Linked DNA regions of Homo sapiens. The protein of the gene in region 1 binds, or shares a complex with, the protein of each later gene. Each region holds a gene or a part of one and is shown in the gene's direction. Other genes may lie near its edges.

The links.
Region 2: the proteins of ETFA (region 1) and ETFB are in contact, whole or in part, in a crystal structure (PDB 2A1U), measured with the Homo sapiens proteins. Residues at the interface, in NP_000117.1 of Homo sapiens: Glu27, Leu88, Pro89, Glu90, Ser113, Ala114, Phe115, Lys117, Asn118, Pro121, Arg122, Ala124, Ala125, Lys126, Glu128, Val129, Ala130, Pro131, Ile132, Ser133, Arg146, Thr147, Ile148, Tyr149, Ala150, Gly151, Asn152, Ala153, Leu154, Cys155; in NP_001976.1 of Homo sapiens: Ile14, Tyr16, Val18, Ile20, Val22, Val29, Thr31, Phe41, Leu102, Arg106, Lys124, Gln125, Ile127, Asp128, Asp129, Asp130, Cys131, Asn132, Gln133, Gln136, Met137, Ala139, Gly140, Phe141, Asp143, Trp144, Pro145, Gln146, Thr148, Phe149.

The regions. Positions count from the first base shown.
Region 1 is NC_000015.10:76,304,353-76,321,075, reverse strand, and holds the start of ETFA (electron transfer flavoprotein subunit alpha, mitochondrial), read left to right. Parts: upstream 1-9,606; 5' UTR 9,607-9,687; coding exon 9,688-9,726; intron 9,727-16,723. UniProt on the Homo sapiens protein: Heterodimeric electron transfer flavoprotein that accepts electrons from several mitochondrial dehydrogenases, including acyl-CoA dehydrogenases, glutaryl-CoA and sarcosine dehydrogenase.
Region 2 is NC_000019.10:51,354,450-51,366,886, reverse strand, and holds the start of ETFB (electron transfer flavoprotein subunit beta), read left to right. Parts: upstream 1-498; 5' UTR 499-560; coding exon 561-617; intron 618-757; exon of another isoform or gene 758-858; intron 859-12,044; exon of another isoform or gene 12,045-12,248; coding exon of another isoform or gene 12,249-12,437. UniProt on the Homo sapiens protein: Heterodimeric electron transfer flavoprotein that accepts electrons from several mitochondrial dehydrogenases, including acyl-CoA dehydrogenases, glutaryl-CoA and sarcosine dehydrogenase.

The DNA.
Region 1 (16,723 bases):
TACCCATTTAAAGTGTATAATTCAATGACTTTTAGCATATTTACAGAGTTGCGTCACCATCACCACAATCAATTTTGGGACGTTTTCATCATGTCCAAAAGAAAGCCCATGCCCATTAGCAGTCACTCCCCATCCCTCAGTCCATCCTCCCAGCCCAAAGCACCACTCATCTACTTTCTGTGTCTATAGATTTGCCTATTCCAGATATTTCCCAAAAATGGAATTAATACAATATGTTGTCTTTTGTGACTGGATTCTTTCACTTATATTGTTTTCAGGGTTCATCTATGTGGTAGCATGCATCAGTAGTTCATTCCTTCTTATTACTGAATTAAAATATTCTGTTTTATGAATATAACACATTTTGCTTATCTATTCATCAGTTGCTAGACATTTGGGTTATTTTAACTTTTTGGCTATTGTGGATAATGTTGCTATGGATATTTGGGGTTTTCATTGTTGTTGTTGTTGTTGTTTTTGAGACGGAGTCTCACTCTGTCGCTCAGGCTGGAGTGCAGTGGCATGATCTCGGATCACTGCAACCTCTGCCTCCCGAGTTCAAGCGATTCTCCTGCCTCAGCCTCCTGAGTAGCTTGGATTACAGGCACGCACCACCACAACTGGTTAATTTTTGTATTTTTAGTAGAGATAGGGTTCTGCTATGTTGTCCAGGCTGGTCTCGAACTTACGGGTTCAAGTGATCCGCCCACCTTGACCTCCCAAAGTGCTGGGATTACATGCGTGAGCCACCACGCCCAGCCTGCTATGGACATTTGTGTGCAAGTTTTAATGGGACATATATCTTCAGTTCTCTTAGATGTATACCTAGGAGTGGAATTGCTGAGTCATATGGTAACTCTATGTTTAACATTTTGAAGAACTGCCAGACTGTTTACCAAACCAGCCACACCATTTATGTGGGTTCTGCAGTAATGTATGAGGGTACCAATTTCTCTACATCCTCGACAATACTTTGCTGGGAGATGGGGTGATAGGGGTGTGATGGCTAAAGAGGCAGAGGTTTCTTTCTGAGGTGATGAAAACATTCTCAAACATTGTGATGATGGTCATACAACTCTGTGAATATACCAAAAATCATTGATTTATATAAATTAAATGGGTAGCTTCTATGGCTTGTGAATTATATCTCAGTAAAGATTATTTAAAACAATCAAACAAAAGCAGCAAATGCCAGAGGGGTGAGGAACGGGGAGAGAGAAGTGCAGGCCAATCTGAGGTTTCATAAGTGCATCTGCTCATCCGGTCATCCACTCATTCATTTGTTCATTCATGAAGTATGCATTGAGTACCTGCAGGTACCAGACATTGTTCTAGGTGCCAGGGATACAACAGTGAATAGAACAAAGTCCTTGCTCTGAAAAATTAAACATAGTAAGGGAATGGAAGAAATATGGAAGGTGGTCAGGAAAAGCCCATCCCAGGGGGTATAGTAGTATTGAAGCTAAGACCTGAATGAAGAGCAGCAGCAAACCATGTAGAAGATCTGGAGCAAAAGCTTTCTAAACAGAAAGAACAGCAAGTGCAAAGGCCCTCAAGGCACTAGCATGCTTTTTTTTCTCTTTTGGCAGGGTCTCACTCTGTTACCCAAGCTGGAGTGCAGTGGCACAGTCCTAGCTCACTGTAACCCTGAACTCCTGGGCTCCTCCTCCCACCTCACCTTCCCGAGTAGCTAGGACCACAGGTGCATACTACCATGCCTGGCTAATTTTTTGTAGAGATGGGGTTTCGCCATGTTGGCCAGACAGGTCTCTAACTCCCGGCTTCAAGTGATCCTCCCACCTCAGCCTCCCAAAGTGCTGGGATTATAGGCATGAACCATCACACCTGGCCTAATATTATTTTAATTTTTTGAGCCATAGTCTCGCTCTGTCTCTTAGGCTGGAGTGCAGTGGCGTGATCTCGGTTCACTGCAACCTCTGCCTCCCGGGTTCAAGTGATTCATCTGCCTCAGGCTCCCGAGTGGCTGAGATTACAGGCAAGCGCCACCACGTCTGGCTAATTTTTGTATTTTTAGTAGAGATGGGATTTTGCCATGTGACCTCAAGTGATCCATCCACCTCGGCCTCCCTAAGTGTTGGGATTACAGGCATGAGCCACCATGCCCAGCCTGATAGTCTAAATACATCACATAAGAATATATGTTGCATTTTGGCTGGTGGCAGTCACTCACACCTGTAATACTAGCACTTTGGGAGGCCGAGGTGGGTGGATCACTTGAGGTCACAGGGTGAAACCCCGTCTCTAGTAAAAATACAAAAAATTAGCTGGGTATGTTGGCATGCACCTGCAATCCCAGCTACTCAGGGGGCTGAGGCATGAGAATTGCTTGAACCTGGGAGGCAGTGGTTGCAGTGAGCCGAGATCATGCTACTGCACTCCAGCCTGGGTGACAGAGCGAGACTCTGTCTCAAAAAAACAAAAAGAACATATATTCCATTTTAAATTTTCTAAGTTTTTTGGATGGTTGTTTTCCTGTGAGCTGGAAATACTGTGGTGAGTGCTTAGTCTGTCAACAAATATCATATTCTTTTAGCATAGCTATACTGTTATTGCATTAAAAAACACAATTAAAAACAGAATAATTCACATTCCACTGGATTATTGTTCAGGCCTGCATATCAGCCCAGCTACTGCTTCTGCCCAGTTCCGCTGTCTCATCCCTCACACAGGTGTGGCTCCTAAGGGCACCCCCTATCTATCATGATGTATTCTGAACTTGTCTCGATCTTGCATCCAAGAGAAAGCAGGAGTGTGGGAGTGGTTGAGAAAACAGGTGGTAAGATGGGGGTTTGGAGCTGCATTACTTTTTACCAGACTGGCACTGAGGACCCAAACCCTGCTGGTAGCTGGAACAAGCCTTTGGCATAAGGTGATATCCAATTCTTAAGACTTGCACTAGTGGCAAATTGGGATGGGATGCTTGTGGAAGGGAATATGGGGGAAATAGTAAAGACAATGACATTGGGTGGCAATTGCTAAGCTCCATGCCCTTGATAAAAAATTACAAAGGAGTAGGAATGATTAACAGGCAATTGAGAACCATGTATAAAAGCTAGAGGACCTCCTTGACAGCACACAATGAGGCAAACTTCAAGGTTCTAACCTTCAAGGATCATTATTCCTCTTTATCTCACTAGTATTGTCCCTCCAGGAACCAGACGGAACCTGGAAGATGACAGTAGACTATCACAAACCCACAGAAGTAGTAGCCCTATTGCCGCCACCACACCAGTTTTGGTATCTTTGCTAGAGCAGATTAACACAGCCCCAGGTACATTTTATGTGGACATTGATTTGGTGAATTGGTTCTCTTCTAGCCCTAGGAGAAAAGTGGATCAGAAACAGTATGCATTCACATGGAACAAACAACAGTCTACAATCACAGTTTTGCCCCAGGGCTATGTTAACTTTCAGCATCTATCAATCACAATACAGCCTGAAGAGGTCTGGACCATCTGGACATACTGTAGAACATCGCATTGATCTTTTACATCAATGACATTACATTGATTCAGCTGGGTGGAAAAAAGTGGATAGCACATTAGAGGCCTTGGAGAATGACAACACAGGCCCCTGCAGTACTGGAGCAAGGCCATGCCATCTGCAGCGGAGACTTACGTGCCTTTTGGGAAAAAATTCTGGTGTGCTACTGGCCTGATCATAGACACCAAGCGACCACATTCTAGAGGGTAGGAGATAAATCCTGCAAAGATTCAGGGGTCTCCCACATAAGATGTTTAGGGGTCCAGAGTTAGGGCATTCCAGGATATCTCATCCAAAGAAAAAGATAAATTATTGCATCTTGCACCTCCCACCATGTAGAAAGAAGTGTTAAGGCCTGATAGGCCTCTTTGGGTTCTGGACACAGTATATTCCACATCTGGAAATACTGCTCCAACCCATGCCATCAGTGCAGGTGACATAAAAGGCTCCCAGCATTAACTGGAGCTCAGAGCATAAAAAGGTTATACAGCAGGTCCAGGCAGTCTGCTACTTGGTCATTTGTGCTTCCATAGACGGTGTTAGTGTTAGTGGTAGGAAAAGATGCTGTGTGGAGTTGATGACGAGCTCTACTGGGAGAATGACAACACAGGCCCCTGCAGTATTGGAGCAAGGCCATGCCATCTGCAGTGGAGACTTATGTGCCTTTTGAGAAAAACTCCTGGTGTGCTACTGACCTGATCATAGACACCAAGTGACCATATGCCAGGAATTACCCATCATGAGCTGGGTTCTGCCAAACCCACCGAGTCACAATACCAGGCAGTCAGTAACAATGCATCCTAGGATGGAACTGGTACATCTGGGACTTAAAATAAGTAAGACCAGAAGGTACAAGCAAGTTCCACGAGCTGGCAGCCTAGACCCCCATGAACACCACTACTACCTCAACACACCTCCCCTGGTGCACCCTTCTGGTTGTAGGTAGGATCCTTTATGACCAGCTGACAAGAGGAGGAAAAATCCTATACTTGGTCAATGGAGGGTCTGCTCAGTATGTGAGTTCAAGCTGAAAATAGATGGCAGTTGCACTATAGCCCCACTTAGGGACAGCCTTGAAAGACAATGGTGAAGAAAAATCTCCATGGGCAGAGCTTCAGGAGGTGCACTTGGCCATCCACTCTTCCTGCACAGAGAGGCATCTCAAGCACAGAATATCTATGTACTCAGTGGCAGTGAGGAATGGCCTACCTGGCTAGCCAGGGCCCCGGAAGAAGAAAGGTTGGAATGGAAGATGGGGGACAGGGAGGTCTGGGGTAGGGGCATGAGGATAGGTGTCTGGAGTGGGCACCAAGTATGAAGATGTTTGTATTACATGTTAACACCCACCAGAAACCATCCACCATTGAAAAGCCACCATGTAACTAAGAGGACAAAAATATCTGGGCCAGTTGACCTTAGTCGGCCTCTGTCATCAGCCACCTAGTGCTGGTACTAAGGGCACATGCATGAAATGACTACAGTGGCAGAGACAGAGGCAGCAGGAGCCTAATAGCATGGGCTCCCACTTACGAAGCCTGATTGAGCTACTGCCACTGCTGAATGAGCCCCCAATATGGCACCATTCCTCCAGAAGACCAGCTGGCTCCACGGTGCAAGTTGACAACATGGAACCCCTTCTATCTTGGAAAAGGCAAGATTCATCCTAACCACATGGAACCCCTTTCATCTGGAAAAAGTCGAGATTCACCATGTCAAGAAAACGCATATATTCTGGGTACTGTTTACCTTTCCTGTTCTCAGGACCTTAGTCAGCACCACTATTTGAGGGCTTATCGAGTATCTGATTCACTGTCACAGGATCCCACATAACATCCATCAGGCCAGGGACCCAATTTACTGCAATGGAGGTGCAGAAATGAGTCCGTGATCAGAGGATTCCCTAAGCGATTCACAGGCTGGATCATCCAGACACTGCCAGCCTGACAGGATATCGGAATGGCTGCTGAAGGCCCACTGGAAGCAGCAGCTTGGAGACAGCACTTGATAAGGGTGGGGTTCATCTTCTAGGATACTCCTTGAACCAAAGACCTTTATATAGTGCTGGGACCTGCAGGGTTAGAGGTCTTTGTCCCCAAAGGGGAATCTTTCACCAGAGGACACAGCAAGGGTCCTCTGAGCTATAAGCTACAGCTGCCACCTGGGCACCTTGTATGCAGGGACCAGAAGACCAGAAGGGGAGTCATCTTGGCTAAGAGTAACCTACTTGGGTGCCTCTGAGTCCTCCATTGCCCAATTATGACAATAAACAGGCTTGGGAAGGGCATGCTGGTCAGGGGTTGAGATCTTCAGTCCACGAGGCAGGATGGAGGCATTAGCCACTCAAACCAGGGGAGGTGCTAGCTGAGGGAGGGGGAGATTTAGAATGGATACTGAGGAAGGAGACGATAAGTACCATTGTGACCCCCAGAAAGTTGCAGCAGCTAGGGCTGTAGTTGGTCCCAGGGACCTTTCTCTTCTAAGTTTCCAGCAGGAATCCTGGAGGAGCTGCTCCTGAAATTGGCCTGTGGAGAAGAAAGAGGTGTTGCTCCAAATATGCTGGAGTCATCTTCAAGGGTTGACTGTGGTAGTCCTTGAATCCTCCTTCCTCCACCCTCTCTTTTCTGCCCTTTCTTCTTTGGACAAATATTTACTTTCTTTCTTTTTTTTTTTTTTTTTTTTGTTTGAGATGGAGTCTTGCTCTGTCATCCGGGCTGGAGTACAGTGGTGTAATCTTGGCTCACTGCAACCTCTGCCTCCCAGGTTCAAGTGATTCTCATGCCTTAGCTGCAGGGGTAGGTGGTATTATAAGAACATGCTACCACACCCGGCTAATTTTTGTATTTTTAGTAGTGAAGGTGGGGGGAGGGTCTCGCCATGTTGACCAGGCTGGTCTTGAACTCCTGACCTCAAGTGATCCGCCCGCCTCGGCCTCCCAAATTGCTAGGATTACAGGTGTGAGCCATTGCACCTAGCCCATTGGACACATATTTCTACAAATGTTTGCTGAACATCTAAAAATAAGAAGCAAATAAATAGGCTGGACACGGTGGCTCACGCCTGTAATCCCAGCACTTTGGGAGGCCACGGCAGGCAGATCACCTGAGGTCAGGGCTTTGAGACCAGCCTGACCAACATGGTGAAACCCCATCTCTACTAAAAATACAAAAATTAGCTGGGCATGGTGGTGGGCACCTGTAATTCCAGCTACTTGGGAGCCTAAGGCAAGAGAATCCATTGAAACTGAGGGGAGGTGGAGGTTGCAGTGAGCCGAGATCGCGCCACTGCACTCCAGCCTGGGTGACAGAGTGAGACTCCGTCTCCAAAATAAATAAAATAAAAATAAGTAAATAAAAGGAAACCATAGGTCCTGCCACCAAAGCGGCTCCTAATGGAGTGGGAAAGTCATATGCCTCTAGGGAAAATCTTCTAATAGAAATGTCTTAGCACACACATTTCTGTGGTACATAACCTGGTTGTGATTGTAGAACCCTGATACATCCCAAAGCCTCAGGGGGCGTTTCATGTGTGATCAGAACAGGTCTGGTCAGGTGTCACAGACTTTGCCCATTTTTAGCCTCTCCCTCTGCTCTGAACTGCTCCACCAGGAACCCCCAGGGGCAACGAGACTCTGGGGTGAACAGCTGCTGCTGATTTGCCCAAGCCTGGGAGCTGTTGAATCTGCCCAGTGGGGGCAGGGCGGGGCAGCCGCTCTCCCCTTGTATTTCGCTTTGTCATGGGTGGGGAGGTAGGGAAGGAGGTTAGTTTGTATCCCAGTTTTTTATATGGTTTTTAGTAAAATATCCTTTTCTGTTTTTACTAAAAGTACCCTTCCCTCTTCCTTCCACTCCCATAGGTCTCAGATTCTAGTCCAGTGTGGGACTGGTTAGGAGGTAAATGCAGTGAGACATGGAATACTAAATTGCCCCTCCCACAGGCAGATTGACTGGGGGACAGGGGTCCACAGCTCTGTCGGCAACATGAGTTCAGACGTGTTCGAAGTGGGTGCAACTTAAGTTTAAGATGGGTCCTCACCTCCTTGTTCATAGAGCTACAAGAGTGAAGAAGAGGAAAGGATTAATTCATCCTGCAGAATTGAGAAAGAGCTTACAAAAGAAATGTCACTTGGGCCAGGCGTGGTGGCTCATGTCTGTAATCCCAGTACTTTGAGAGGCCAAGGTGGGAAGATCACTTGAGGCCAGGAGTTCGAGACCAGCCCTGGGTAACCCTGCCCCTACAAAAAAAAATAGCTGGGCATGGTGGCACATGACTGTAGTCCCAGCTACTTGGGAGGCTGAGGCAGGAAGATTGCTTGATCCCAGGAGTTCGAGACTGCAGTGAGCTGTGATGGCACCACCGCACTCCAGCCTGGGAAACAGAGTGAGACCTTGTCTTAAACAGAACAAAAGAATTGTCACTTGATCTGGGTTTTAAAGAGGGCTGTCAGATGGGGAAGGGAATTTCAGACAGAGGGAAGAGCAAAAGCGCAAGGCCCTTAGAGTGCTTGTTAGTTCAGACAAAGCTCTTGCTTCAGGGAATTTACACTCCAATGCAGTGAGATCAGCAATAAACAAACATGTGCATCCTGTTAGGCAGTGATAAATGCCAAGAAAAAAAATCAAACAAGGTGATAGGGCGTCTGGGAGTGGCATGGGTGCTATTTTAGGTGGAGAGGCTAAGGCCGGCCTTTCTGCAAATGTGTTTTTTGAGCAGAGACCTGAATGAAGTGAGGAAGTACGCCACGCGGGTAACAAGAGAAGGCCATTTCAGGCAGAGGGAAGAGCCAGAGTGCAAAACTCTGAGAGGAGCAGGCTTGTGTGCTCAAGAAGGCCTATGTATCTGGGGAACAGTGAGAGAAGAGGGCAGTGGGAGGAGAGGGAGCCACCATAGGGCTTTGAGCAGAGGTCATGATCAGTCCATCAGTTTGGAGAAGAGGCTTCTGGAAACATGGGCAGAAACAGAAAGACCAGTTAGGAGGCTTTGCAATGATCCAGGCGAGAGAGGACAGGGTCCTGAGTGAAGGTGATACCAGCAGAGGAGCAAAGGGGTGTTGGAGGATATTGCTGGATTCTGGTTATCTTTTGAAGGTAGAGTCAACGGGATTTGTTGATAGACTAGATAACATTGGAAAGGTAGGTTGTTGCTGAATTGGGAATTGAGACAATTTCTGAACATACCACTTCCCTCTTAAAAATTTCGTGTTAAAGTCCAGACTCATTAGCAGTCATTTATTCATTTGCTTATTCATTCAACACATACTGATTGAATGCCTAGTATGGACCAGGCATTGTGCTAGGTGTTGCAGGTAGACACAAAATTTAAAAGTAGGGCATACTGGCCGGGCGCGGTGGCTCACGCCTGTAATCCCAGCACTTTGGGAGTCCGAGGCGGGCGGATCACGAGGTCAGGAGATCGAGACCATCCTGCCTAACACTGTGAAACCCCGTCTCTACTAAAAATACAAAAAAATTAGCTGGGCGTGGTGGCGGGCGCCTGTAGTCCCAGCTACTCGGGAGGCTGAGGCAGAAGAATGGAGTGAACCCGGGAGGCGGAGCTTTCAGTGAGCTGAGCTCGCGCCACTGCACTCCAGCCAGGGTGACAGAGGGAGACTCTCTCTCTCTCAAAAAAAAAAAAAAAAAAAAGGGCATACTTTCTGCCCTTACAGATCTTCAGTCAGATGGGTGACACAGACAAGTACTTAGGTTATTACAACCCATGTGACAATTGCTACCATGGGGAAATACAGGGGGAAATAGGGGCATATAGGAAAGGTATCTAATTGGAATTGGCAAGGCTCCACTCGTACCTTACCCCGAGGTCAGCTCAGTTTTGAAGTTCACTCTAGCAGTGCTGACCATTGCGGGGCTGTGAGACAGTACAGTCTGAGCTCGGTCATCAGCGGGTGGCCAGCTTTGTCTCTGCCGCTCCGCGGCCCGGGCTTACTCGAAGGTCCCCGGGGAATAGCCTCACCTTTGCCCCACTTCCCAGTCTAGCCCCTAACTTCCCGCCGTCTATTGGCTGCGCAGCCGCCCAATGGGCAGGCGGAAACCGCGGGCTCGTGCTCCCGGCCTAGGGCGTCTTATCTCGTTCGCGCGTCTCGCGAGCATTAGGTGACTGGCTGAGGCGGCGCCAGTTGGCCGGGCACGGGGCTGCTGTAAGGCCGAGGTTGCGGCGGAAGCGGAGACCATGTTCCGAGCGGCGGCTCCGGGGCAGCTCCGGCGGGCGGTGAGTCCGGACTGGGAAGGCGAACCCAGGGACGGCCCCCCGTCAACCCGCCGTCCCTATGGGGTCTTGCAAAGATCACTGGCCCCCTCAGATTCGACCAGCCCTCGCGCCCGCAGGCCGGTCCCCGCCTGGGACTTGGGTCCAAAGTTCTGGGGCCTACCCTGGACTCCCTGCGGAACGCCAGTTCGGGGCAGAAGTCAGAGGTTTGGGGTCAGGGTGACCCCGAATGATGTGAATTTGCGCGTCTGCTGCCCCTTCTTCTGGCCCACTCTCTGCCCTGCCGTTTCCCACCTTTGTCGGTCACTCTGGGCACTTTCGGGCCGCCAGGTCCTCCACACTTGCTCCACACCCGAGGGAGCAAAATGTCACCGGGGAATGCCCTGTTGGGGAAAGTTTCAAACCTAGATTCCTCCCGGAGGCCGGCATTTCTGGAAGAATTAAACACTTTGGGCGCATCGTGGCTACTCCGACCCACTCACTGTCAAGGGCGGGGGTGGGGTGGGGTGGGAGGCTGCGTGGCCAGTTATGGAAGCTGGTTCTGCTTTCTGGTTTATGGAGCAGGGCTGAATTTAGGTGATTGTATTTGTAAAACCTGCGATCCGATTTGACAGCTTTAGCCAGTTTTGAAAGGCAGACGTCTTTTTATATGCTTCAGGCTGACCTGCTTTTAACCAGCAGATTGTAGATTAGGTTAACTGGTGACAGTGGTACATTTTCAGTGTTTCATTAGTGACAAACCACATTTCTCTCTTCTGTTGTGAGAAGGACTGATAGGAAACATATTTTCCTTCTCATGCTGTGGGAAAGGAGTATTTGGAGACTGACCAGTCACAAGTCAAGTAACAATAATTTATATTGTGGATTGTGTAGTTTTCCTAGTTTACATTTAGGTGAAATGAGAAACAAGATTGGTAAACTTGGGTCAGAAACTTACCTGATGGTTTGTACCTTTTCTCCTTTTTTTTTTTTTTTTTTTTTTTCTGGGCATGGATATTTTCCCATCCACTCCTGGGATTTTTCTCTCTGAGGCATAGCTGGAGCTCTTTCTAGATGTCTGTAGACATTAGACTTTTGTTTGTTTGTTTGTTTGTTTGTTTAAGAGACAAGGTCTGGCTCTGTTTCCCATGCTGGAGTGGAGTGCAGTGGCACGATATGGGCTCACTGCAACCGTCGCCTCCCAGGTTCAAGCGATTCTCCCACCTCAGCTTCCCGAGAAGCTGGGATCACAGGTGCGCATCATCACGCCTGGCTAATTTTTTTTTTTTTTTTTTTTTTTTTTTTGTAGAGACGGGGTTTCCCCATGTTACCCAGGCTGGTCTCGAACTCTTGTCCTCAAGTGATCCACCTGCCTCGGCCTCCCAAAGTCCTGGAATTACAGGCCTGAGCTACCGCACCTGGCCTTAGACATCTTTTTTCTTGTGCGTATTCCTTGTTTAATAAAAAGTTCTGACCCTCCCCTCCCCTAAAGAGTTCAAACCCATGTCTTTCAGGTTAGTGTCCTGTCTTCCCCTCAGGACATGTTTTCTCCCGGTTGGGGATCTAGACATAAACAAGTGAAAATCATGAATTTGGGGAAATTCCAGGAACCTGAGCCAGAAGAATGCTGCTCTATGCAGCAGTTGGAAAACAGTTTTGTGGACAGATTACAAGTCTGGCCTAAGTGAAATTATAATTGTGGTGGGGGATGGAATTTAGGACTCAGTAATTTTGTAGAGCTAACAGAAAAAAATGGAATGATTAAGTAATTTTTACTATCCACATCGTTGGCTAATGTGTATAGACATTACTTCCAGATATTCATTGTGGTTTGCCAAAGACTTTGACCTTGACTTATTTTTAAAATTTGAAGTCAAGCTAAGTAGAATAGCTGTTTTTTTTGTTTGTTTGTTTGTTTGTTTTGAGACGGAGTCTCGCTCTGTCGCCCAGGCTGGAGTGCAGTGGCGCGATCTCAGCTCACTGCAAGCTCCGCCTCCCGGGTTCACGCCATTCTCCTGCCTCAGCCTCCTGAGTAGCTGGGACTACAGGTACCCGCCACCACGCCCCGCTAATTTTTTTGTATTTTTAGTAGAGACGGGGGTTTCACTGTGTTAGCCGGTATGGTCTCGATCTCCTGACCTCATGATCCGCCCGCCTTGGCCTCCCAAAGTGCTGGGATTACAGGCGTGAGCCACCGCGCCCAGCCTAGAATAGCTGTTTTAAAGTCATTAAGAATGTTGGAGAGATTTGGATTTCTAGCATAAAAGAAATGGTGGCAACACTTCTAAAGTGGACCCATATATTAATAGGGACATATACCTGTATTTAACTTTTTAAATTTTGAAATAGTTGCACTTATAGAAAAGTTGCAAGAATAGTACAAAGAAATCTCAAAACCCTTCCCCTGGTTTTCCCAGCATGTTAGCAGTTTGACACATTTGCTTTATCTTTCCACATATATACATAATACTATCTTTCTGAACCATTTGAAAGTATGTTGCAAATGTGCCCTTTACTCCTAAATAATTGAGTGATATTTTAAAAGAACAAAGAGGTTCACTTTCTAACTACACTGTAATTGGCAATATCTGGAAGTTTCACCATAAAATACTGTTTTCTAATCTATGGATGTTCAATTTTGCCAGTTGTCCCATTAGTACAGTTTATAGCAATTTTCCTTATTCTGGTCTAAGATACTCTAGATGTCCTGCAAGTGGTTTTCATGTCTCTTTACTCTGTTAGAAAGGTTCCTCAGCCTTCCTTTGGGTTTGATGACATTGGTGTATTTGAAGAGTACAGGCCTTCTATTTTCCAGACTGTCACTCAATTTGGGTTTGTCTGGTGTTTCCTCATGATTAGATTCAGGTCATGTATTCTTGGTGGGAATATCACAAAAGTGGTATTGTGTTCCCCGTGCATCATATTAGCAGGTACTTAATGTTGGTTTATCCCATTAGTGGTAATGCTGACTTTAGTTACTTAGCCAAAGTGTTGTTTGCCAGGTTTCTCCACTGTCAAGTTAATACTCCTCCTTTTGTAATTTTTAACTAATTTGTGAGGCGATTCATTGAGACTATGTGACTGTCCTATTTCTCATCAGACTTTTACCCAGTCTTAGCATCTGTTGATGATTTTTGCCTGAGAAATGATTACTATGATGCAAAATGGTGATTTTCTATTTCCATGATACCTTCGTACATTTTTTAGTTATTCTACTATAAGGAAGAACATTATCTTCTTGCATATTTATGGATTTATGGATACATGGATCCTTATTTAGGATAATACATTTCTACCTTATGCTGAAGTTGTCTCATGTTTGTAAAGTGGGGCCCATTCAATCTGACTCCTGTTTGTTTACATATATATGTTTGTGATATCACAAAGTCAAAATAGCTTATCTCAAGTCCCCACTCTTGAAATTAAAAAAAAAATGTTCTGTAGCTAACCATTAATGCATTTAGGAAGAGGATACATTTCCAAAACCATATTTAAAAAAATAAAGTTAGGAATTACAGTTAAAAGATTACCATAAACTGTTAACGATGTGCATATAGTTAACACTTAACACTTAAAAATGGTTAAGATGGGGCCAACCATGGTGGCTGACACCTGTAATCCCAGCACTTTGGGAGGCTGAGGCAGATGGATCACCTGAGCTCAGGAGTTCGAGACCAGCCTGCGCAACATGGCGAAACCCCATCTCTACCAAAAAAAAAATTAGCCAGGCGCCATGGTTCACACCTGTAGTCCCAGCTACTTGGGAGGCTGAGGCACGAGACTTGCTTGAACCTGGGCATTTGAGGCTGCATTGAGCCCAGGTAGCACCACTGCCCTCCGGCCTGGGCAACAGAGTGAGACGCTGTTTCAAAAAAAAAAAAAAAGGTTAAGATGGTAAATTTTATGTATTCTTTTAAACCACTTTGTTAAACTATTAGGATATAAGTTCAATGACTTGCATTTGGTATCTAAGTTCCATTTTTAGTTCTGACTGATTTGTGCCATTGAGTAAAGTCTTTCATCCTTATGTGTGTGGCAATGGTCTTTAAAGTCATCTGTTAACAAAGATAGTTTTTATATCTATAATAAAGAGCTAGAGAACACACCAAGAGGCAAATAGGTAGGCATTTGCAGTTAGTTAATATTCTTGCAGGGATATTAATCCTAATTATTGTTATTTATTAATTTGCTCTTGAAATTGATTTATTGAAGAATAAGAAGATGCAGAAAAATATTTATGTGGTGAGTGAAACAACAATTTCAAGGTCATTTGAGTACTCTTTTTACTGTGTTTATTGTCAGGTGGGAAGGAATATCTATCAGGACTGAGAAGCTATGAAACTGGTGTGAAGGAACATGACACTTTTCTGTCTAGTATTGATGAATAAGATTGAACTCTGTAATTTGCATGCAAATTTTAATTTCTATTGAAAGAAGAAAGAGAGCCAATTTTGGTGTGATTCTAAAAGAAAATTTATTGCATAAGGTGAATTCAGTAAAATTATGATGCCTGCCAATGTGTCTACTAAGAGTCTTGTCCTTTCTTAAAGTGAAGTAAATTGACTGTGTTTTTAGTATTACAGTCAATGTCATATAACATTTCTGGTCATGATTAAAAGCTGCTATATTTTATTACTAAAAGGATTAAAGGAAGTATTTAAAGTACAGAAATATACATTTTAAAAATTACAAAATGTATGTTAAAATAGGGATAGGTGACTTTATATATTATCCTTTTGGGTATGACTCAGAAAGATTTTATAGCTTATTCTTGCTGTTTTTCTTTTTTTAATTAAGAAGCAAAAAAACCGGCTGGGTGCAGTGGCTCATGTCTGTAATCCCAGCACTTTGGGAGGCTGAGGTGGGTGGATCACGAGGTCAGGAGTTTGAGATTAGCCTGACCAACATGGTGAAACCCGTCTCTACTAAAAATACAAAAATTAGCTGGGTGTGGTGGTGCGTGCCTGTAATCCCAGCTACTTAGGAGGCTGAGGCAGGAGAATTGCTTGAACCCAGGAGGCGGAGGTTGGAGTGAGCTGAGATCGCGCCACTGCACTGCAGTCTGGGCGACTGAGCGAGACTCTGTCTCAAAAAAAAAAAAAAAAAGAAGCAAAAAAACCCTCCCCTGCCCTCTATACCCTCATTACACCTAGTTTCCAAAGATGGTTGGGGTGGAGGTATAGGTTACAATCATTCTTACTACTTTAGGTTATGAGTGGGTTTGTAAGGGTAGAGAGTTAGATTCCAGCTTTTTTTCTTCTTCTACCATCTGTGGTACTTTACTATGTGAATATACAGTTCAAGTCACAGCAAGAACTCTAAAAAACTGACAAGCAAAAACAATGTCAAAAATGAGGCTGATGCTGGGCACAGTGTCATGTGCCTGTAGTCACAGCTACTCATGTGGCTGAGGCAGGAGGATCACTTGAGTCCAGGAGACCAGCCTGAGCAACATAGCAAGCAAGACCCAGTCTCAAACAAATACCCACCCCCACAAGAAAAAAAAAAAAACAACTATTGAGGTTGAAAAAGAGAAGGACCAAAATGTGTTCATTGGACTTAGCCATAATGAAGTTTTTGGTGACTTTGGAAAGATTGGATTCAGTGTTGTGAAGGTGAAAGCCAGTTTGCATGAGTAACTGAAAAAATGGAAGGTGAGGTAATAAGAGTTGGTGTCTGTGGAAATTATTTTCAAGAAATTTAGCTTTGAAAGGGTGCAGAGAGGGTGATAACCTCTTTAAATCCTGCCCACAAGAAGTATACTATCTTATAAAGGCCAGTCAACTTTATATGGGTATGTGGCTGGCATGAGAAAGAAAACTTCATATTTTGCTATTTGCAACCAAGTCTAAACAGAGTATAGAGAACTTCTCTAAAAGCATGATGGTGTGTCTGTTTTAGTGATGTAACAGTTTATGTACTGTTTAGTTACCCTTATACATGTTTAGTTGATTACATTATCAATGAGGAAACAGTTGCTTTTTAGTTTTTGATAATTTTAAGAAAAGTTTTCATTTAGTTACTATTCATTGAGTGCCAACTGTGTGCCAGAGAGGTAGATACCAAGTTCACAGTGGAGAACAAGACAGACCTAGTCCCTGCCCTTGTGATGCAAACAGATTAAGGAAGAAACACATTATTTTAAGTGTGGTCATTGTTACAGAACATAGAGGGTGTTTGGGAGAGGTTTAATCTTGTTAGAGGACTGGAAAACACTGAAAGGATATCTGTGAAATTATGTTTGCACACTGAGGTGCCTTAAACTATTGTTACTGAGTGATAAAGTAATAGAGCGGAGGATTTTCTTTCTTTCTTTCTTTCTTTTTTTTTTTTGAGACAGAGTCTCACTGTTGCCCAGGCTGGAGTGCAGTGGCGCCATCTCGACTCACTGCAGCCTCTGCTGCCTGGGTTCACGCCATTCATCTGCCTCAGCCTCCCAAGTAGCTGGGACTACAGGTGCCCGCCACCACGCCCGGCTAATTTTTGTATTTTTAGTAGAGACGGGGTTTCACCATGTTAGCCAGGATGGTCTCGCTCTCCTGACCTTGTGATCTGCCCGCCTCGGCCTCCCAAAGTGCTGGGATTACAGGTGTGAGCCACCGCTCCTGGCCGAGGATTTTCTTTAGATAAAAACATCACTTCATTTTTTAGTTTTGTCTAAAATCATTTATCATTGCTGTATTTTTTCCCCCAATTTTTTTTTTTTTTTTTTGAAATAGAGTCTTACTCTCACCCAGGCTGGAGTGCAGTGGTGTGATCTTGACTCGCTGCAGCCTCAACCTTCTAGGCTTAAATGATCCTTCCATCTCAGCCTTCCAAGTAGCTGGGGCTACGGGAATGCGCCACCACATCTGACTAATTTTTTAATTTTTATCTTTCATAGAAACAGGGTCTTACTGTATTGTCCAGGCTGGTCTTAAACTCCTGGGCCAATTTTAGGTTTGCAGGGTATCTGTGCAGATTTATTATGAGTAAACCGTGTGTCCTGGGGGTTTGATGTACAGATTATTTTGCCGCCCAG
Region 2 (12,437 bases), on another chromosome or scaffold:
TGGAGAGGCTGTGGGGACGACATGGAGGTGAAGTAGAGACACGGACAGGGGAGGATACGGATATGGAAGGGACAGGGAACACGGGGATGGAGAGAGTGGAGAGACCGACGCGCGAGGATTCAGAGGCGTGGGAATACGAGTACCGCGACTTGGAGAGGCCGGGAAGAAGTGGGGGATCTGGAGAGGGAGAGCAGATCCGGGGATACCGGGAAGTGTTTATAGGACCGGGAGGATCTATAAACTCCGGGCGCGCTTCCCTCCAGTGCACGACCTTTCCCCTAGTTCTCTGCCCTGCCCTCTCCGCCAGGCCTTTCCTTCTCTCTCCAGGTCCCGCTCGCTCCCCGAGATCCGCTTCCCATTGGTTTGCATTGCTTGCCACACCTCCCTTCCTTCCGGCCTCTCGATTGGTCCTCTGTCGGGGAGGCGGGCTCTGCAGCGGTTGACTGGCTGACCGTGCTGCGCGCAGGCGCAGAGAGGGGCGCGGGGGGCGGGGGTGGTGGGGCTTCTGGACTGAGCCGCTGAGGGTGCGGGCTGACCCTGTAAGTGGCTGCGGCGGGAAGATGGCGGAGCTGCGCGTGCTCGTAGCTGTCAAGAGGGTCATCGACTACGCCGTGAAGGTGATCGGGCCCCCCTCTCCCACATCCCTGAGTCCCGCAGCCGTGTGCTTCCGGGGCCACGAGCGCACACTGGGTGGGGGTCTTCTCGTAACCCCCGACCTCTGCCGCTTTAACCCCCAAACGTCAAAGTCACCTGAGGGCAAAAATCCAAGAGTGAAGTTCTAACATCCGATCCCTCCGGGGTCACGGCCATGTTCTCTTTTCCCTCGTTCTGGATTCACTCTCTTGATAACTGTTCAGAGTGAGTTGCTTTCTCTATTTCTTACCCACTGGAAGAAGTCACGGTCCCTGTTTAATGCACGGAGAAACTGAGGCACAGAGAGGTCACCCAGCTAGAGAAGGGCAGAGCCGAGAGTTCTATCCAGGTTCCTCTGACTGCTTTCACCCACTAGGCTGCATTACTTACCATTGTACTCTTATATTACCCGAAATGTGCTATAGAGGGAGTCAGACAGGGTCCTGTGGGGCCCCAGAAGCTGCTTTCCACCCTCCATAGCCACAGGGTGAGCCAGGAGGCTCTAGCTAGGGAGAGAGAAGTGTGTTTGCTAGAGATGAAAGTTCAAGGAGCCAACCTGACTGAGCTGGGGGTAGCTCACATTCTCCATGAAAGAGGTGGGGGAGGGTGCTCTCAGCGCCTGGCTTGTTGTCCCCAGAGGGAAGCTGGTGTGGACAGAGGTGAATCAGACACGGTCTCTCAGGCCCGTTTCTCTCAATGCTTGGCCTGAACTGGACTGAAGATGGTGACTGTCTGTCCATGTCTGTCCTTCCCATCAGCCTGGGGACTTACCTCCGTGTCCCCAGCATTACCTAGCGCAGGGCCTGGCACCCTGGAGGCCTCAGGGTGGGCAAAACCAGGGTCACAAAGTTGACACTGATACTGCCCCTGCCTGCTTAGGGAGTGGGCTGGGGAAGAGGGTACAGGAGCCAGACTTGAGCATGAAAGTGTCAGTGATGATAGCAGCCAGCATTTAGCGGGTACTTACGTGGCAGGCATCGTTCCAAGTCCTTTGCAGAGATTAACCCATTCAGTCCTTTCAGTACCCTTTGTATTATTTATTATTTATTTTTATTTTTTGAGACGGAGTTTTGCTCTTTTTGCCCAGGCTGGAGTGCAATGGCGCAGTCTTGGCTCACTGCAACCTCAGCCTCCCGAGTTCAAGCAATTCTCCTACCTCAGCCTCCCAGGTAGCTGGGATTACAGGCATGTGCCACCACACCTGGCTAATTTTTTGTATTTTTAGTAGAGATGGGGTTTCACCATGTTGGTCAGGCTGGTCTCAAACTCCAGACCTCAGGTGATCCACCCGCCTGCCTCGGCCCCCCAAAGTGCTGGGATTACAGGTGTGAGCCACCGTGCCTGGCCGACCCTTTGTATTATTAATTCCATTGGATAGATGAGGAAACTGAGGCCTGTCAGATCTCCCAGCCAGTAAGTGGCAGAGTTACGATCGAAACCCCGGGCAAGTCTGGCTCTAGACTCTGCTCTCCCATCTCCCTCAATGCCCCCTGTCCTAATGATGCCTCTGGCAGCACATGACAGGGATGTCACCTGTAGCCCTTTTGAGACACATTCCTCTTGGGGTCCTGGGACCCAACACTTGGTTTCCTCCCTGCTCTGACTGTTCGTTACTGTCACATCTTTGGAGTCCTACAGCTCCCTGGGCCTCTTCTCTCCATCCCAGCCCTGGCCTTCCACGCCTGGCATGTCTGGGATTGGATCCGTCTCCCCCATGGTGCAGGCCCACGTTTGACTCAGCTCTGGTCCCAGCATCACTCAGCACAGAGCCTGGCACATGGATGTCTCTGGTGTGCTCAGGGAGAGAACAGAGGGGAAGCGTGAAGGCCGCGTTGAATCAGCTACTGTCCTTTCCAGAGGGTGCTGCCTTCCCCTCCCGCAGTGCCCCAGGGCTCCCTGCATTACATCCTGTCTCACTGGATGTGTCTGTTGATGTCCTTTTCAGAACAAATAAATGATTCAGACCCTGCCAGCTTCCTAAACACCAGATTAGACCTGGGTACTGTCCCACCCTCTTTCCCTTCTCCCAAAGCTGTCAGTTCTCCACCCCCCACCCTTCTTGCCCTATTGTCTCTTGGTGTCATTGTCTCACCTGGACCCTCACCCGGGTCCTCCCTCACTCCCAGTCTCTCCCTCTCAGCCCACCTCTACCCAGCCTTAGGGGCCTTTCTGCACCCAGAGCTCACCCTGCTCTCCCCTGCTCCCAGCCTGCCTGTGGCTCCCCAGCACCCTCAGGACAGAGTCGCAGCCCCTCTGCCTGGCATTTGGGATGCTTTGTGGTCCAGCCTCCTCTTCATGGTCTGCTTCAGCCGTCCACTTCCCTCCTTGGACCCTCCCTTACCCTTTGTGCTTCTGCCACTGTGACCTGCTCCTCCTGTCCTGACAGACCAGGCCGCGGCTTGCCCGTTCCATGCCTTCTTCCAGCACCACCCTCCTACCTCTGCTTTCTGTCCTTTGTCCTGCCCAACTCCAACTCATGGATTATATCAAAATCTAGTGATTCTCGGCCAGGCGCGGTGGCTCACACCTCTAATCCCTGCACTTTGTGAGGCTGAGGCGAGTGGATCAGTTGAGGTCAGGAGTTTGAGACCAGCCAGGCCAACATGGTGAAACCCCATCTCTCCTAAAAATAAAAAAATTAGCCAGGCATGGTGGCACGTATCTGTAGTCCCAGCTACTCGGGAGGCTGAGGCAGGAGAATCGCTTGAACCTGGGAGGCAGAGGTTGCAGTGAGCCAGGATTGTGTCCCTGTACTCCAGCCTGGGTGACAGAGCTAGACTCAGTCTCAAAATAATAATAATAATAATTTAGTGATTCTCCCTGGCATCGCCTCCTCCAGGAAGCCCCTGACCCTACACCCTCAGGTTGCCTTGGTATATCCCTGGGGGCTTCTGCAGTCCCTAGATTTGCTTCCATCAGCCCTCGCCAGACTGGATTGGGATCCTCTGTTTACCCCATGTTCCCCACTGCCCTACTCCATCATCCCCAGGCTGGTAGCTCCCTGCAGAGAGGGGCCATGTCTGATCCACCTCTGTTCCCAGAATCACGTGCTCACTCCCTGACCTCTTTCACCTCCTTTTCAAACATCACCTTCTCTGGGAGGACTTCCCTGCTTGCCTCCTTAAAATCACAGGCCCCAGGTCCCTGTGTTTTGCTGTGTTTTCCCCTATACTTAGCAACTAGAAAGGGAGAGGAAAGTATGTTTGCTAGAGATGAAAGTTCAAGGAGCCAACCTAACTGAGTGGAGGGAGTGACTCACATTCTCCATGAAGGAGGTGGGAGCAGGGGCACCCTCTGAGAGCCCAGCTTGTCCCCAGAGGGAAGCTGGTGTGGACACTTTGTAATCCACAGTGTTGTTTACTTATTGATTGCTCTGGTGTCTGTCGCCCCTTCTGGAATTTGAGCTCCAGGTGTGGGGGAGACAGTTTGATGTGGTCACTGCTTCCTGAGACAGTGGGTTCACTACTAGAATAGTGCAGACCTCAGACTCCAAGCCCAGCGCCTGCGTCCACTTCCTGCTGTGTGACCTTGAGGAAATTGCTTCACCACTCTAAGCCTCATTTTTCTACTCTGTACAATGGGGATGATGGTACTATCTACTTTATTGAGTTGTAATGAAAATTAAATAAGCCCTTGGAACAGTGCCTGGCACACAGTGGTTTGTTTTGTTTTATTTTTTGAGACGGAGTCTATCTCTGTTGCCCAGGCTGGAGTGCAGTGGCATGATCTCAGCTCACTGGAACCTCCACTTCCCAGGTTCAAGCAACTCTGCCTCAGCCTCCTGAGTAGCTGGGATTACACGTGTGAGCCACCACGCCTGGCTAATTTTTGTATTTTTAGTAGAAACGAGGTTTTGCTATGTTAGCCAGGCTGGTCTAGACCTCCTGACCTCAGGTAATCCACCCGCCTCAGCCTCCCAACGTGCTGGGATTACAGGTGTGAGCCACTGTGACCAGCTGCAATAAGTGTTTTTATTGGGAGTAGTAGTAATGGATGTTTAGTTAGTCATTTATTCAAAACATAACAAATGCTGTGCTCAGAGTGTATTCGTGTGTGTGTGTGTGTGTGTGTGTGTGTGTGTGTGTGTGTGTATGTGTGTCCGGCTGTGTGTATGTTTCTGGGTATGTGCGTGTATCTAACATTTTAATAGGTATTTGGCAACTCAGTAACACCCTGTCCTGTTCAGGGGCACATTTTACAGGAAGCTGATGAAGCTTAACCTTCAGGGCCTCTTTCAAGACCCCAGGAGAAAGGCTGGGCCTGGTGGCTCACGCCTGTAAACACACACTTTGGGAGGCTGAGGTGGGTGGATCACGAGGTCAGGAGTTCAAGACCATCCTAGCCAACAGAGTGAAACTCTGTCTCTACTAAAAATACAAAAATTAGCTGGGCATGGCGGCGCGTGCCCGTAGTCCCAGCTACTCGGGGGGCTGAGGCAGAAGAATCGCTTGAACCAGGGAGGCGGAGGTTGCAGTGAACCGAGATCGTGCCACTGCACTCCAGCCTGGGTGACAGAGGGAGACTCCGTCTCACAAAAAAAAAAAAAAAAAAAAAAACCCAGGAGAGGCTGGGCAATTTTGTATTCATTATCTGGGATTCATTTTCTTAGAGATGACCCCACAGGATAGAAACTCCAGGCCCAGAAAACGTGTTTCCATCTCGGGGCCCAACCCCGACCAGCCACACCCTCTCGTCTGGGAGCGCCTGGTGTTTCTTCAGGTTTTCCTCTTTGGGCTCCACGCACTTGCCCCTCCTGCTCTCAGCAAGGCCACCTTGTCTGACAGGGCACACGTGGGGCTCACATGTCACCTCAGGGACGAGTTCTCTGTCTGCCCCCCGCCGAGTTAGTGATCTGTCACTGGGGTGGCTCCCTGGCCTTGGCTGTCCTGCTTGCTGAGTGCCCTAGCACGTGCCCAGGGACTCGCTTGACAGAAAAGCCTAGAGGACAGAACCACACAAGTCCTTGAGCTGTGTCAGGGGTTCAGGAAGAGCTGTCGAAAATCACTTTATAAAATCCCTCTTGGGCCGGGCGTGGTGGCTCACACCTGTAATTCCAGCATTTTGGGAGGCCGAGGTGGGCGGATCACCTGAGGTCAGGAGTTCGAGACCAGCCTGGCCAACATGACGAAACCCCATCTCTACTAAAAATAAAAAAATTAGCCAGGCGTGGGCCGGGCGCGGTGGCCCACACGTGTAATCTCAGCACTTTGGGAGGCTGAGGCGGGTGGATCACAAGGTTAGGAGATTGAGACCATCCTGGCTAACACGGTGAGACCTTGTCTCTACTAAAAATACAAAAAATTAGCCAGGCGTGGTGGCAGGCGCCTGTAGTCCCAGCTACTGGGGAGGCTGAGGCAGGAGAATCGCTTGAACCCAGAAGGTGGAGTTTGCAGTGAGCCAAGATCATACTACTGCACCCCAGCCTGGGCAACAGAACAAGACTCTGTATCAAAAAGAAAGAGAAAGAGAGAGAGAGAGAGAGAGAGAAAGAGAGAAAGAAAAGAGAAGAGAAGAAAATCCCTCTTGCCTGCAGTGGACAACAAATAGGAAGACTGGCTCTCCTAACACCGTGGGCACACGTAGCCTCTTTCAGAGTCTCACAGTTCCCAAGACAGATTTGGGGTTAGACCCGTGGTCCTGCCACTTCCATGCTCAGTGGCCCTGGCCAAGGTACTTGGCCTCTCTGTGCCTCAGTTGCCTCATCTGTAAAATGAGAGGTAATGGCAGTAACCAACCTCACAGGCTACTAGGATGGTCAAACGAGTTAATGCATATAAAACCCTTGACTCGTTGTCTGCATGGGTCAGTGCTGCTTTTAAAAAAATTTTTTTTTTCTTTTCTTTTTTTTTTTTTGAGATAGAATCTGGTCTGTCACCCAGGCTGGAGTGCATTGATGTGATCCCTGCTCACTGCAACCTCCACCTCCCGGGTTCAAGTGATTCTCCTCCCTCAGCCTCCCAACTAGCTGGAATTACAGGCATGTGCTAAAACGCTCGACTAATTTTTGTATTTTTAGTAGAGATGGGGTTTTACCATGTTGGCCAGGCTGGTCTCGAACTCCTGACCACAAGTGATCCACCCACCTCAGCCCCACAAAGTGCTGGGATTACAGGTGTGAGCCGCCACGCCCAGCTTTGAGGCTGTTTTTGATATTGGTGGATATGTCGTCTCTTTAAGAGAAAGCCAGCACTTAATGCTGAATGATTTACCTCAATTATAAAACTTTTTTTTTTTCTTTTTGAGACAAGGTCTAGCTCTGTCACCCAGGCTAGAGTGGTACAGTCACAGCTCGCTGCAGCCTCGACCCTCCTGGGTTCAAGCCGTCCTCCCACCTCAGCCTCCTCAGTAGCTGGGACTACAGGTGCACGCCACCATGACCTGCTAATTTTGTTTTTTGGTAGAGATGAAGTCTCTCTATGTTGCCCAGGCTGGTCTTGAAATCCTGGGCTCCAGTGATCCTCCTTCCTCAGTCTCCTAAGGTGCTGGGATTACAGGCATGAGCCATCATTATTTAAAAAACAAACAAGCTATCATTTTTCAGCCCTACCATTGTTTCCTGACTTATGTAATATAACTAAACTGTTTTTGAAGCTTAAAATCAACTCAAGCTTAATTGAGAAGATGAGCTAGTTTGTTTCCTCAGGTGTGTGTGCGTGCGTGTGTGTGTGTGTGTCTGGAAAGTTCTTACCCTTTCTCCTCAGGAGTCAGGAGCCTGGGAATCAGGAGCTTAGGGCTGGGAGTTCTGCCAGAGCAAGAGCAAGATGTGGCTTGAGGCCCTTCAGAAGCCTCCCTGACTCACAGCAAGAAGCTTGGGGCCTCTTACTGATGGGTGGATGAGGTTCTTTTCTGTCTTAAAGGGGCAACTCCTATGTTGTGTTTTTTTTTTTAAGAAAAAAGGCCAGGCACTGCGACTCACACCTGTAATCCCATCACTTTGGTAGGCTGAAGCAGGCGGATCACTTTAGGCCAGGAGTTCCAGACCAGCCTGGGAAACACGGGGAAATCCTTTCTCTACAAAAAGTAAAAAAAAAAAAATTAGCCCGGCATGATGGTGCCCGCCTGTGGTCCCAGCTACTGGGGAGGCTGAAGTGGGAGGATCACCTGAGCCCGGGAGGTGGAGGTTGCAGTAAGGCAAGGTGGCACCTCTGCACTCCAGCCTGGGCAACGAGAGAGATGAAAATAACAGTTCTTTCTCTTTCCTCTCCTCTTCCAGCTCCTTCTCCTCTTTCTCCTTTTTCTTTTTCTTTTTCTTTTTTGAGATGAGGTCTTGCTCTGTCACCCAGGTTACATGTAGTGGCATGATCACGGCTCACTGCACCCTTGACCTCCTGGGCTCAGGTGATCCTCCCGCCTCAGCCTCCTGAGTAGCTGGGACTACAGGTGTGTGCCACCATACCTGGCTGTTTTTTTTTTTTTTTTTTTGTTGTTGTTTGTTTGTTTGTTTTGAGGCGGAGTCTTGCTCTGTCGCCCAGGCTGGAGTGCCGTGGCGCAATCTTGGCTCATTACAACCTCCACCTCCTGGGTTCAAGCAATTCTCCCTGCCCCAGCCTCTGAGTAGCTGCAATTACAGGCGTGCACTACCATGCCCGGCTAATTTTTTATTTTATTTTTATTTTTAGTAGAGATGGGGTTTTGCCATGTTGGCCAGGCTGGTCTTGAACTCTTGACCTCAGGTGATCCGCCCACCTTGGCCTCCCAAAGTGCTGGGATTACAGGCATGAGCCACCACGCCCAGCTGTTTTTGTTTTTGTTGTTGTTGTTTGTAGAACCTGTTGCCCAGGCTAGTATCCAACTCCTGGGCACAAGTGATCCTCCCACCTTGGCCTCCCAAATTTCTGGGATTACAGACAGGAGCCACTGCGCCCGGTCTCAGTCCTCCATCTTTTAATGTTACCCTCTCCATGAGGCACAGCCAGAGTGGGAAGCCCCTTATGGGTCCCACCTTCTCATCTCGGATTCTGTCCTGCCTGTGGGAGGAACAGTTACACCCACAGCCCCAGAGAAAAAGGGGCAGGGAAATAGCAAGAGCATCCCAGTGTCCTCACCAGGCTCAGCTGCCACCCGAGATCTGCTCTGGCCAAGCCCTGGGTGGCGGCCACATGGGAGAAGAGGAAGAGGGCAGGCTCCAGGCCAAATGGGGCAGCTCCCTAGCAAGGCTTCTGTGGATGTCCCTGGAGGCTTTTTAAAAATTTGTGCCCCAAACCAAACTCGCCGTCTTCCCGGCTCTGGCTGATGTACTGACTGGAAGCCCCTTTTTGGTGTCATCTTCCCATCACGAACCATGGCCTGTCAGTTGCACCTCCAGAAACCTCTTGCATCTGTCTCTGCTGTCACAGCTGTCTGAGCCACTGTCACCTCTCACTTTGGTGACAAACAGCCACCCAGCTCTCTCCCCACTTCCTCTCATCCTTTTCCAATTTTCTCCACCAAGAATCCAGAATGACCTTATAAAAACTCAGGTTGGGCCAGGAGCGGTGGCTCACGCCTGTAATCCCCTGCCTTTGAGAGGCCGAGGTGGGTGGATCACCAGAGATCGGGAGTTCGAGACCAGCCTGGCCAACATAGTGAAACCCTGTCTCTATTAAAAATACAAAAAATTAGCTGGGCGTGGTGGTGGGCACCTGTAATCACAGCTACTCAGGAGGCTGAGGCAGGAGAATCGCTTGAACTGGGGAGGCAGAGGTTGCAATGAGCTGAGATCATGCCACTGCTCTCCATCCTGGACAACAGAGCAAGACTCCATCTCAAAAAAAAAAAAAAAAAGAAAGAAAGAAAAAAAGGATTGTGGTGGGCCAAGAAATAAAATAGCCCTCCAAAACAGCCAGGTTTCAATCCCTGGCACCTGAGAAGGGGAAATCACTTAGAAACAGGGTCTTTGCAGGCTGGCCATGTTGGCTTATGCCTGTAATCCCAGCACTTTGGGAGGCCGAGGAGAGCAGATCACCTGAGGTCAGGAGTTCAAGACCAGCCTGGCCAACATGGTGAAACCCTGTCTCTACTAAAAATACAAAAATTAGCCAGGCGTGGTGATGCATGCCTGTAATCCCAGCTACTTGGGAGGCTGAGGCAGGCAAATTGCTTGAACCCGGGAGGCAGAGGTTGCAGTGAGCCGAGATTTCACCACTGTACTCCAGCCTGGGCGACAGAGCGAGAGCCCATCTAAAAAAAAAAAAAAAAGAAATTAGAAACAGGGTCTTTGCAGATGTGATTAAATTAAGCATCTTGAGATGGGGGCATTATCCTGGATTATTTAGGTGGGCCCTGAATGCCATCTCAAGAGTCCTTATAAGAGAGAGACAGAGGGAGACTAGACACGCAGAGAGAGGAGAAGGCCACGTGAAGACAGAGCTGAGGATGCTGGCATTGAAGATAAAGCGATGCAGCCACAAGCCAGGGAGTGTCAGCAGAAGCTGGAGGAGGCAAGAAACGTGTTCCTCCCGGGGCCTGCAGACCCCTTGGTCTCACCCTGGTGACACTGACTTTGGACTTCTGGCCTCCAGAGCTGTAAGATTCTAAGCCACCAAATATATGGTGATTTGTTACGGCAGCCGAGAGAAACTAATAGGAGAGTGGTTAGTGGTTCACGCTACACCCTGGTCTACACCGGAAGCCTCTCTCCCTGGCACATGATGGTGTCCCCAGGATCCAGCTCAGAGCCAGGCACACAGTGGGGCCCAGGAGAGACAAAAATGATGTGCAGAAGCAAATGGGTGGGGTTTGCCACCCACCTCCCTTACCTCCCTTGTCTGTTTAGCAAAGAGGTCTTTCATGCTGGTGTTTTCCAAATTAGGTTGTGACCATGTGTGATCATGACATCCAGGCAGAGGGCTGGCATTTTTCCGAAAAAGGGTAGAAAATGTCAGAGTATGGTGTGTGTGTAGGCAGGGTCAGTATTGGTCACTGACCCTTACACTGCAGTGGCATTTGTGAAATAGGTCAGGGTCACTGGTCACGTTGTCTAAGGTGTTATCCGAGCTCGTTTCACAACCAAGAGAATTAAAGAGCATAGACCACCCAAAAGGTGAGGTTGGAGCGAAAGTTTAATAAGCAAAAGAAGAAAGCTCTCCACAGAGGAGAGGGAAGCCCAAGCGGGTTGCCATTTTTACAGTTGATTCCAAAAGCTTTTTTTTTAAAAAATTATTTATTTATTTATTTTTTATTATTATACTTTAAGTTTTAGGATACATGTGCACAACGTACAGGTTTGTTACATGTGTTTATATGTGCCATGTTGGTGTGCTGCACCCAGTAACTCGTCCTTTAGCATTAGGTATATCTCCTAATGCTATCCCTCCCCCCTCCCCCCACCCCACGACAGTCCCCGGTGTGTGATGTTCCCCTTCCTGTGTCCATGTGTTCTCATTGTTCAATTCCCACCTATGAGTGAGAACATGCGTTGTTTGGTTTTCTGTCCTTGCGATAGTTTGCTGAGAATGATGGTTTCCAGCTTCATCCATGTCCCTACAAAGGACATGAACTCATCATTGTTTATGGCTGCATAGTATTCCATGGTGTATATGTGCCACATTTTCTTAATCCAGTCTATCATTGTTGGACATTTGGGTTGGTTCCAAGTCTTTACTATTGTGAATAGTGCCGCAATAAACATATGTGTGCATGTGTCTTTATAGCAGCATGATTTATAATCCTTTGGGTATATACCCAGTAATAGGATGGCTGGGTCAAATGGTATTTCTAGTTCTAGATCCCTGAGGAATCACCACACCGACTTCCACAATGGTTGAACTAGTTTACAGTCCCACCAACAGTGTAAAAGTGTTCCTTTTTCTCCACATCCTCTCCAGCACCTGTTCTTTCCTGACTTTTTAATGATCGCCGTTCTAACTGGTGTGAGACGGTATCTCATTGTGATTTTGATTTGCATTTCTCTGATGGCCAGTGATGATGAGCATTTTTCATGTGTTTTTTGGCTGCATAAATGTCTTCTTTTGAGAAGTGTCTATTCATATCCTTCGCCCACTTTTTGATGGGGTTGTTTGTTTTTTTCTTGTACATTTGTTTGAGTTCATTGTAGATTCTGGATATTAGCCATTTGTCAGATGAGTAGGCTGCAAAAATTTTCTCCCATTCTGTAGGTTGCCTGTTCACTCTGATGGTTAAACTAAAGAGCTTCTGCACAGCAAAAGACACCAAAAGCTTTTATAAGAAACTCCTTTCATCTCTGTAGCTGTTTGAGTATCTTATCTGTAAAGCTATCTGCATAACTCTCCGTTATCTATGTAGTTGTGGGTACGTCTTTAGGCAAGCACAAAGCTCCGCTTCTCTTGTTTCTGTAACCGTGGGTTTGTTTTAGGTAAGCTCCGCCCCTCCCCGTGCAAGTTCCCACAGAGACCACCATGTACGTGCCTGAAAAGGGGAGGGAACTTTTCCTGGGAGCCTGTCAGTCACGCAAAGAACAAAAGGCTTCTGTGCTGGGCAGCTTGAGTTTTCCCCAGGCTGCTCTATTGTTGCCTGTAGCTGTGATTTTTCAGGCAGGCTGCTCCTCTGAGGACCACCCTTAACTGTCTACCTAACTGGTTTTTCCTTTTCTTCTCCTCATTTGTATTTATGTATCAGTGTATTATGTATTTATATACACTTGGAGATACAGTAAAATGTACCTCTCACTGTGGGTTACCATAAATACTGTAAATTTGAGAAACACTCTTTCAGGCCTGAGAGGAGCAGTGACAACAGTAGGGATGATCAAGTCAGATGTCCCTGGTACCCAGGAATGGCTGGATGAGAGAAGGAGACAGGGTGACCTGCCCCTGCCTACAAACTCTAACCCAGTTCTGTCCCTG